2 separate regions of the Homo sapiens genome follow, and region 2 is linked to region 1. Evidence: fine-mapped expression QTL. A gene starts in region 1. The other region holds a variant in brackets. All regions are shown on one strand. Distances are from middle to middle.

Region 1 (4,533 bases):
TTACAGGCGTGAGCCACCGCACCCGGCCTCCATTCAAGTTTTATCATGAGATTGCAGCAACAATTTAGTCACATCTTCAGGCTTCACTTCTAATTCCAGTTCTCTTGCTATTTCCACCATAGCTGCAGGAGAAGAAGAGAGATGGGGAAACAGCAGCCAGTCAGAACACCTACATGTATTGATTAAATTTGCCGTCTTATATGGGTATGATTGGTGGCACCTCAAAACAATTACAATAGTAACATAAAGATTACTGATCTGCCAGGCATGGTGGCTCACTCTCGTAATCTCAACACTTTGGGAGGCCAAAGCAGGCAGACTGCTTGAGCACAAGAGTTCAAGGCCAGCCTGGGCAACGTGGCAAAACCCTGTTTCTACAAAAAAAAATCAAAAATTATCCAGGTGTGGTGGCACACACCTGTAGTCCCAGCTACTCAGGAGGCCAAGGTTGGGGGATTGCTTGAACCCAGGCGGTGGAGGCTACAGTGAGCCATCATCCTGTCATTGCACTCCAGTCTGGGCAACAGAGCAAGATGCTGCCTCAATAAACAAAAAAAATTACTGATCACAGCTCACCATAACAGATATAACAATAATAAAAAGTTTTAAATATCAGAGGAATTATCAAAATGTGACAGAAAGAAACAAGGTGAACACATGCTGTTGGAAAAATGGCACCAAGAGACTTGCTCAAGGGTTGCCACAAACCTTCAATTCATTTTTAAAAACGCAATATCTGAGAAGCACAAGAAAGCAAAGTGTAAAATACAAAGCATGCGGCCGGGCGCCATTGCTGCCTGTAATCCCAGCACTTTGGGAGGCTGAGGTGGGTGGATCACAAGGTCAGGAGTTCGAGAGCAGCCTGGCCAAGATGGTGAAATCCCGTCTCTACTAAAAATACAAAAATTAGCCAGACGTGATGGTGGGCGCCTGTAATCCCAGCTACTCAGGAGGCTGAGGCAGGAGAATTGCTCGAACCAGCTGACATCGCACCACTGCACTCTAGCCTGGGTGACAGAGCAAGACTCCATCTCAAAAAAATAAATAAATAAATAAAGGAAAATAATAGAAGCATGCTTATCCTTCAATGTGTATTTCCTAAAGACAAAGACATTGTCTTATATGACCATAATACAATTACCCAAATCGAAAAATTTAATATGATTACAGTATAATCTAATATACTGTCCATTTTTAAATTTTGCCAGTTGTCACAATAACGTTCTTCATAGTTATTTCTTCCTTAATCCAGGATCCCATCCAGGATCACCCATAGATTTAGTTGCCCTGTCTCTTTAGTATCCTTTAATCTGCCACAAACCCTTAGTCTTTGTCTTTTGTAACGTTAACACTTTTGAATAATTTATGGGCCCGTCATCTAGCGATGTCTACCTCAAACGCAACTCGTGCTTTTTTTGCATGAATACTACATTATGCTGCGTCCTTTTCAGGGTATTATATTAATAGGCATATGATATTGGCTCCTCCTATAACTGTGGCGTTAGTCTTGATCATTTGGTTATGATGGTGTCCACCAAATTTCTCTATTGTAAACTTTTTTTTTTTTTCTCGCTCTGTTGCCCAGGCTGGAGTGCAGTGGCAGGCTGACGGTTCGCTGCAGCCTCGAACTCGTGTGGCTCAAGCAATCCTCCCATCTCAGCCTCACGAGTAGCTAGGACCATAGGACCTAGCCACCACATTTGGCTAATTTTTTGTATTTTTTGTAGAGATGGGGTTTCTCCACGTTGCCCAGGCTGGTCTCCAACTTCTGGGCTAAAGTGATTCTCCCGCTTCAGCCTTCCAAAGTGCTGGATTACAGGCGTGAGTCAACACGCCCAGCCTTGTAAACTATTTCTTTTCATCTTTGTAAATAATACATAATTTATGGGGAGTTATTTTGAGACTATGGAAATATCATGTTCCTCATCACGTTTACCTCCTAGTTTTAGTACCTTTTGATGATTCTTGCCTAAATCAGTTATTAGAATACAATTCATATATGATAAAATTCATTAAAGTATATAGTAATTCAGTGGTTTTTGTATATTCATACGGTTGTGTAACCATCACCGCTAATTCCAGAGCATTTTTATCACCCCGAAAATGAAACCCTTCACCCATTAGCACTCATTTCCCCATTTCCCCCAGCCTCTGGCGACCACTAATCTACTTTTTATCTCTATGGATTTGCCTATTTAAGACATCCTATATAAATGCAATCATACAATATGTGGTCCTTTGTGTCTAACTTATTTCACTTAATATGTTCTCACGGTTCATTCATGTTGTAGTTCTTATTGATATTTCATACCTTTTTATTTGCCTAAATCAATCATTTCTATGATTCCTAAAAAATGGTGCTAGTCTAACTACATTATTTCCATCTACACTTACTAGGCAACATCTTTATCATCCATTGTCAGGAAGCCCTTTAAGAAAACTGCACAGTGAAGTTCATTTTAATAAATAGGGTTTCCTTGCTCTCAAGTAGTTACTAATCTTAGACAAAAGGGTCTAGGATGACCACCTTTCTTGAGGTTTACATGATCTTCCCTGACTTCCACTTGAAAGGCACCCTGTGAGTCTCTCTCCGCCTGTTATCCCACAGGCTCCTCCCCACTCCTCCAGGTACCCCTTCCCCGGCGGCTGCAGGAGGAGGAAGTGACGCACCGGAAGTGTCCCTGTTCCCCTTGCTGTGGGGGTAAGGAATCAAGCCCCCAAGATGGCGGCAGCGGCGGAGGAGCGGATGGCAGAGGAAGGAGGCGGCGGCCAAGGCGACGGCGGTTCCTCTTTGGCCTCCGGCTCTACCCAGCGACAGCCTCCACCGCCCGCGCCACAGCACCCGCAGCCGGGGTCCCAGGCGCTCCCAGCCCCCGCGCTGGCTCCGGACCAGCTGCCTCAAAACAACACGCTTGTGGCGCTGCCCATCGTAGCCATCGAGAACATCCTCAGCTTTATGTCCTACGACGAAATTAGCCAGCTCCGCCTGGTGAGGCCCCCGCAGAACTCCTGCCTCCCTCTCCCCCCGGCCGAGGTCTGGGAGATGAGAAGGGAGCGCGTTCCCCGGGAAGGGAGCCCCCCGCGAGCCCCAGCCGGCTACAGATCTGGGAGGGAGCCGCTCCCGTCCCGAACTCTCCCTTGGCGTCAGTCAGCAGGAGTGGGCTGGTTCCCGATTGCGTCCTAGCTGCGGAGCTGGGGTTACTTCCTGAGGGGACTTCGCCTTGGGGGCTCCTTGCCCCCCGCCCGGAAGCGGGCCCTCTACGGGAGGGGTAGCGGAGTTGGTCTTCCCACCTTCCGCCTGGCCCGAGAGTAGACCCGGAGAGGTCATGTCGCCTGCCTTTTGTATGCCGCTTCCAGCCCCCGGCCTGGGTTTGGGGAGAAAACTCAGAAGTAGGCAGATGATCCCAGCCAGGTTTGGTTTATCTTGCAAGAATAACGAATTGTTCCCCACCCCAACCACCCAAGTTTTCTTGTTCGAGAAGATTGAGTAGACTAAGGTGGCTCAGTGACCCCAAACCCAGGTAGAGGTTCCGAAGAATTCGAACGTGTTTACTTAGCGTTAGCCCCAGCGCCCTAATTGACCACTAAAGTAGAGCCTTGGGAAATGACCATTCCTGCTTTGCCTCATCCTAACGCTTCCCACCGTAGAGAAGCAACTTACCCCTTGACGGGTTTTTTCTCTTTTGCAATTTATTTTTAACTAGTGATTTACGCCCACCCACCTGCTTTAGGAGAGGTTTCTTTATACCTTAAAATCACAATAGGTCAGTCCATGATTTTTAAAAATAATGAATTTGCCATTGGGGTTTTACTTCACTCCAGAGGTTTGAAGATGTGGTGATTGTTAGTTCAGTTAGATATTTTGCTGCCTTTCAATGAAATTATCTTTAAGTGGTAAAGAAATTGAAGGAGGTGGACATTTTGAAGTGATTGCAAACCGATTCCATGGAGAAGCTAAATCTGTGCTGGGAATTGTTTTTAAGAGGACAAAGATATTTCTGAATGTGCTGTGTATAACATCTTCTTATTACTCAATATGCTATATTGTAGGCATACACCTCCACTTTCAAGTGGATTATAATTACATTTTTAAAGGAAATCATAACATTTTTAAAAGAGAACTTATAAATATTAATTCAAACTGATGGCCAATTTTTTTTCTAGTCAACACAGCAGTTCAACCATGCCAGTCTGCAGGATGGAAAATTTCTTCAGCTGAAAATAGATATTTCACAATTGATTGCCTCTGAATTTCCAAAACGTTTTCATTCTAGAATTTCATGTAGAATCTTAAATATTCCTTCAGATTTTTACAAACAGTGGCGTTTAATCAAAATTCGCGCTGTACATATACAGTGTTTGGAAAATTGGGCATATAACATTTGATTGAATTGAACCATTCAACCAGACAATGGCTTTGTAAATCTTGGAATATTCACAGTTCTGTTTTGTAAGTGTTGAGAAAAACTGAGTTTTATTTGTTTGTTGATCATTTTACTATTTTAAAAAAATGTAGTGGGGAGGGGGGAACCA
Region 2 (4,000 bases), 22 kb after region 1:
TAAAAAGTTTAAAGGAGTTAAATTTTATCATCAAAAGCATATCATCTCCTGCCTATATTTCCATGTGTAATCCATTCATTTATCTAATTTCTTTGGTTCTAATAGCCACTAGATTTGATAGCCAAAAAACCTTTACTTTTATTTTTATTTTTGAGATGGAGTCTTGCTCTATCACCCAGGCTGGAGTGCAAGTGGTGCAGTCTTGGTTCACTGCAACCTCCGACGCCCGGGTTCAAGCGAGTCTCCTGCCTCAGCCTCCCTAGTAGCTGGGACTATAGGCATGCACCATCACGCCTGGCTAATTTTTTAGTAGAGACGGGGTTTCACCATGTTGCCCAGCCTGGTCTCAAACTCCTGACCTCAGGTGATCCACCCGCCTCAGCCTCCTAAAGTGCTGGGATTACAGGCGTGAGCCTCCAAGCCCGGCCCCAAAAAACCTAATTAAAATATATATATATATATATAATTTGTTTTGTTTGTTTTCAAATATTTTGTCAATGAGTACCAGTCTTTGGTAACGATTTCTAGGCATAGTGATTCATTCATCATTACAGTTAAATTATGACCCAACTGTAGATTTCTAAATTAACATGTAAAAGACTGTTTCATTAAGCCATCTTGATTGCTTAATATTTTAGTCCACAATACTGCTTTAATGGTTGCCTTGCTTTTATTATTATTATTATTATAGGAGAGAGTCAGAAAGGAGAAACCATTCATTAGCTCGTCATGCAGACATTCTTGCTGCTGTTGAAACAAGGCTGTCACTATTAAATATGACTTTCATGAAATATGTGGATTCCAATCTCTGTTGCTTCATCCCAGGAAAGGTAAAATAGAATTGCTTGCCTAGAACAGCTGGACTGCCCTACATAAACTTATTATACAGTTATGAATTTCTGATTTTAGAAATGTTAGAATTGTTTCTACTTCTCTGAGTTTCTACTAATGAATTTGTTTGCTTTCTGTACAGTTATAAATATGTATCATTTGTATGATCTTTATATTTAAAATTCTAATTATGAAATAGTCGAAACCCTAATATTCTTTAGAGAAGTTTTTTAAGAGTTCATACTCAAGAATAAAATTTGAGGTTTTACTGGTGGTTATGATGCCAGAGATACAGCAATGAACAACATACATATTGTCCCTGCCTTCAAGACTATTATAATTTTGGGGAGGTAGAAAAGGAGGGACAAGCTGGTTTTTGTTTTGTTTGAGAAATGTTTCATAACGACAACTTTATAAACTTTCTGATTTGACAAGAATAAACAATTGCTATTTACCAATATTCCCAGAACTAAATAACAGTCCTTTTTAACACAGAAATAACTATATTGTGGCATATTTACCATTACTAAGTTAATAAAAACTCCAACATTCAACATACTACTTATACCTTCAGTAGTACCCTACTCCTTGAATTAAGTGTAAATTGACATATGTCTGTATCTTTTTATATGGAAGTGGTAGAGATATAATTAAAGGTCATTTTGCTACTTGGTTGATGCTGGCAAAAGTTTCCCTTAACATGGTTGGAAATAATTAATATCTAGTAAAATCTGAATGTTCGCTTTTTGTTATTTCCAAAGATAATTTACATTGGCAATATTTAATACGTACTTTGTCCATTTTTAGTTTTCTTTGACATTTATTTTTGGGGGGAATCCCATTTCTTATGATTGTATTTGAAATATTTTGGTATATCTCACTTTCTTTGCATTATATACATTTTCTTTAAAAGATCTTGTTGCATACCAACACATTACCTGCTAATGCTTTTTGTAGGGTGCTATAAGAGGATGACCAGTTAGAAACTTCAGAGTGATTCTTATGCCAGATTTTTCTGAATCTGACTTAAAGGCCTTAACTTTTAAGTGTTCCTGAGTTCTTTGAACTTAGCTTGTTTCATATAGCATCATAGTTTTTATTGAATATCTCATTGTTAGAAACATGAATATCTAAGAAACATCTCACAGTTATCATAACTTCAAAGAGATTCAGTCAGTTGTTAAGTAACAGAGTTGAATAGTTTGTGACAGAGTTCATGTGGCCTACAAAGATTAAAATATTTATGATCCAGGCCGGCTGTAGTGGCTCGCACCTCTAATCCCAGATACTTGCAAGGCTGAGGCAGAAGAATCGCTTGAACCCGGGAGGCGGAGGTTGCACTGAGCCAAGATCACACCACTGCACTCCAGCCTGGGCAACAGAGCAAGACTCTGTCTCAAAAAAAAAAAAA[A/AG]AAAAAAAAAAGAAAAAGAAAAAGAAAAATTTAGTATCTGGCCTGTACAGAAGAAGTCACCAATTTCTGTGCTAGTTGATCAGGCTCACGTGTTTGGAATGGTGATGTTGACAGTCTAAACAAATAATGTTGCCAGGTGCCGTGGCTCACACCTGTAATCCCCACACTTTGGGAGGCCGAGACGGGCAGATCACAAGGTCAGGAGATCAAGACCAGCCTGGCGAACATGGGGAAACCCTGTCTCTACTAAAAATACGAAAATTAGCTGGGCATGGTGGCATGTGCCTGTAATCCCAGCTACTCGGGAGTCTCAGGCAGGAGAGTCACTTGAACCAGGCAGTCAGAGGTTGCAGTGAGCCGAGATCATGCCACTGCACTCCAGCCTGGCGACAAAGCAAGACTCTATCTCAAAAACAAACAAATAATGTTAAATCCACTGGAGTCCTGTCATTTTTGGAAACCATTTGTTGACTTCAGTTTTTTTTTTTTTTTTTTTTGAGATGGTGTCGTGCTGTGTCACCCAGGCTGGAGTGCAGTGGGGCAATCTCAGCTAACAGCAACCTCTGCCTCCCGGTACAGGTGCATTATTTGGATTGTTTTATGAGTGTTCCCTTTTTTGTACTTCTCATGCTTAAACTTTTCACATCCTGTCTGCAAAATATAAGGATGCGGCATTTAATTTCCACATGCTGAAGTAAGAACATTATACAAAATAATTTTCAGTCTAACATATAATCTTCATTTAATATATGGTGTTTATGATAAGTTGTTCTTGTTTTCCCTGAGATCTTGCTTCTGGGATGTACTTAAAAGTTTAGGCCGGGCGCGGTAGCTCACACCTGTAATCCCAGCACTTTAGGAGGCCAAGGTGGGCGGATCACAAGGTCAGGAGGTCCAGACCATCCTTGCTAACATGGTGAAACCCCATCTCTACTAAAAATACAAAAAAAAAAACTAGCTGGGCATGGTGGCGGGCGCCTATAGTCCCAGCTACTCGGGAGGCTGAGGCAGGAGAATGGCATGAACCTGGGAGGCAGAGCTTGCAGTGAGCCAAGATCGTGCCACTGCACTCCAGCCTGGGCGACAGAGCAAGACTTTGTCTCCAGAAAAAAAAAAAGTTCAGAAGTCTTTTTGTTTTTGTTTTTGAGATGGGGTCTCGTTCTGTCGCCCAGGCTGGAGTCCATTGGTGCAATCTTGGCTCACCGCAACCTCTGCCACCCAGGTTTAGGCGATTCTCATGCCTCAGCCTCCCAAGTAGCTGAGACTACAGGTGCACACCACCACAGCCAGGTAATTTTTGTATTTTTAGTAGAGACGAGGTTTCACCATGTTGGCCAGGCTGGCCTCAAACTCCTGATCTCAAGTGATCCGCCTGCCTTGGCCTCCCAAAGTGCTGGGATTACAGGTGTGAACCACTGTGCCTAGCCACAGAAGCTTTTATACTTTGTTAAGAAAACTAACTTTTGTGGTTTTATATAGACTACATTCATTTTGTCAAACTTAAGGTCTACAGTAAGCATTTTATTCACTTAAGTGAATCTGAGTAGTAGCAACATTATAGTTCAAATTAGATAGCCAAATATGTACCAAAATTTTGGACCTTTAAAGTAATAGTTGGGACTGGGCACGGTGGCTCACGCCTGTAATCGCAGCACTTTGGGAGGCCAAGACGGGTAGATCACAAGGTCAAGAGATCGAGACCATCCTGGCCAACATGGTGAAACCCCATCTCTACTAAAAATACAAAAATTAGCTGGG

Direction of the effects. Alleles are on the strand shown, and positions count from the first base shown. SD is a standard deviation of normalised expression in the study named.
As copies of AG replace A in region 2, the expression in monocytes after triphosphate RNA of the gene that starts at base 2,704 in region 1 goes down (large effect, 0.86 SD a copy in Kim-Hellmuth 2017).

Evidence for each region. PIP is the estimated chance that this variant, and not a neighbour inherited with it, causes the effect. A credible set is the group of variants that fine-mapping cannot tell apart.
Region 2: its variant is the best candidate, but not a certain one, in a credible set for the expression of FBXO28 in monocytes after triphosphate RNA (Kim-Hellmuth 2017, PIP 0.75).

The regions. Positions count from the first base shown.
Region 1 is chr1:224,111,408-224,115,940 of GRCh38, forward strand. FBXO28 (F-box protein 28) reads left to right here and starts at 2,704. Exons shown (of 5, transcript NM_015176.4): 1 at 2,704-2,989. The coding sequence starts at 2,723. It overlaps LOC105373056 (a long non-coding RNA gene), which reads right to left and starts at 2,633. Exons shown (of 3, transcript XR_007066897.1): 1 at 2,528-2,633; 2 at 1-122. RefSeq lists enhancers at 2,347-2,476, 2,497-2,556, 2,697-2,766.
Region 2 is chr1:224,133,383-224,137,382 of GRCh38, forward strand. It overlaps FBXO28 (F-box protein 28), which reads left to right. Exons shown (of 5, transcript NM_015176.4): 3 at 692-830. LOC124903813 (UPF0764 protein C16orf89-like) reads right to left here. Exons shown (of 3, transcript XM_047436340.1): 3 at 2,827-2,931. The coding sequence ends at 2,827. Among named protein-coding and RNA genes, the nearest start is that of FBXO28, 21 kb to the left of the region's middle. The variant A/AG (reference allele first, on the strand shown) is at 2,243.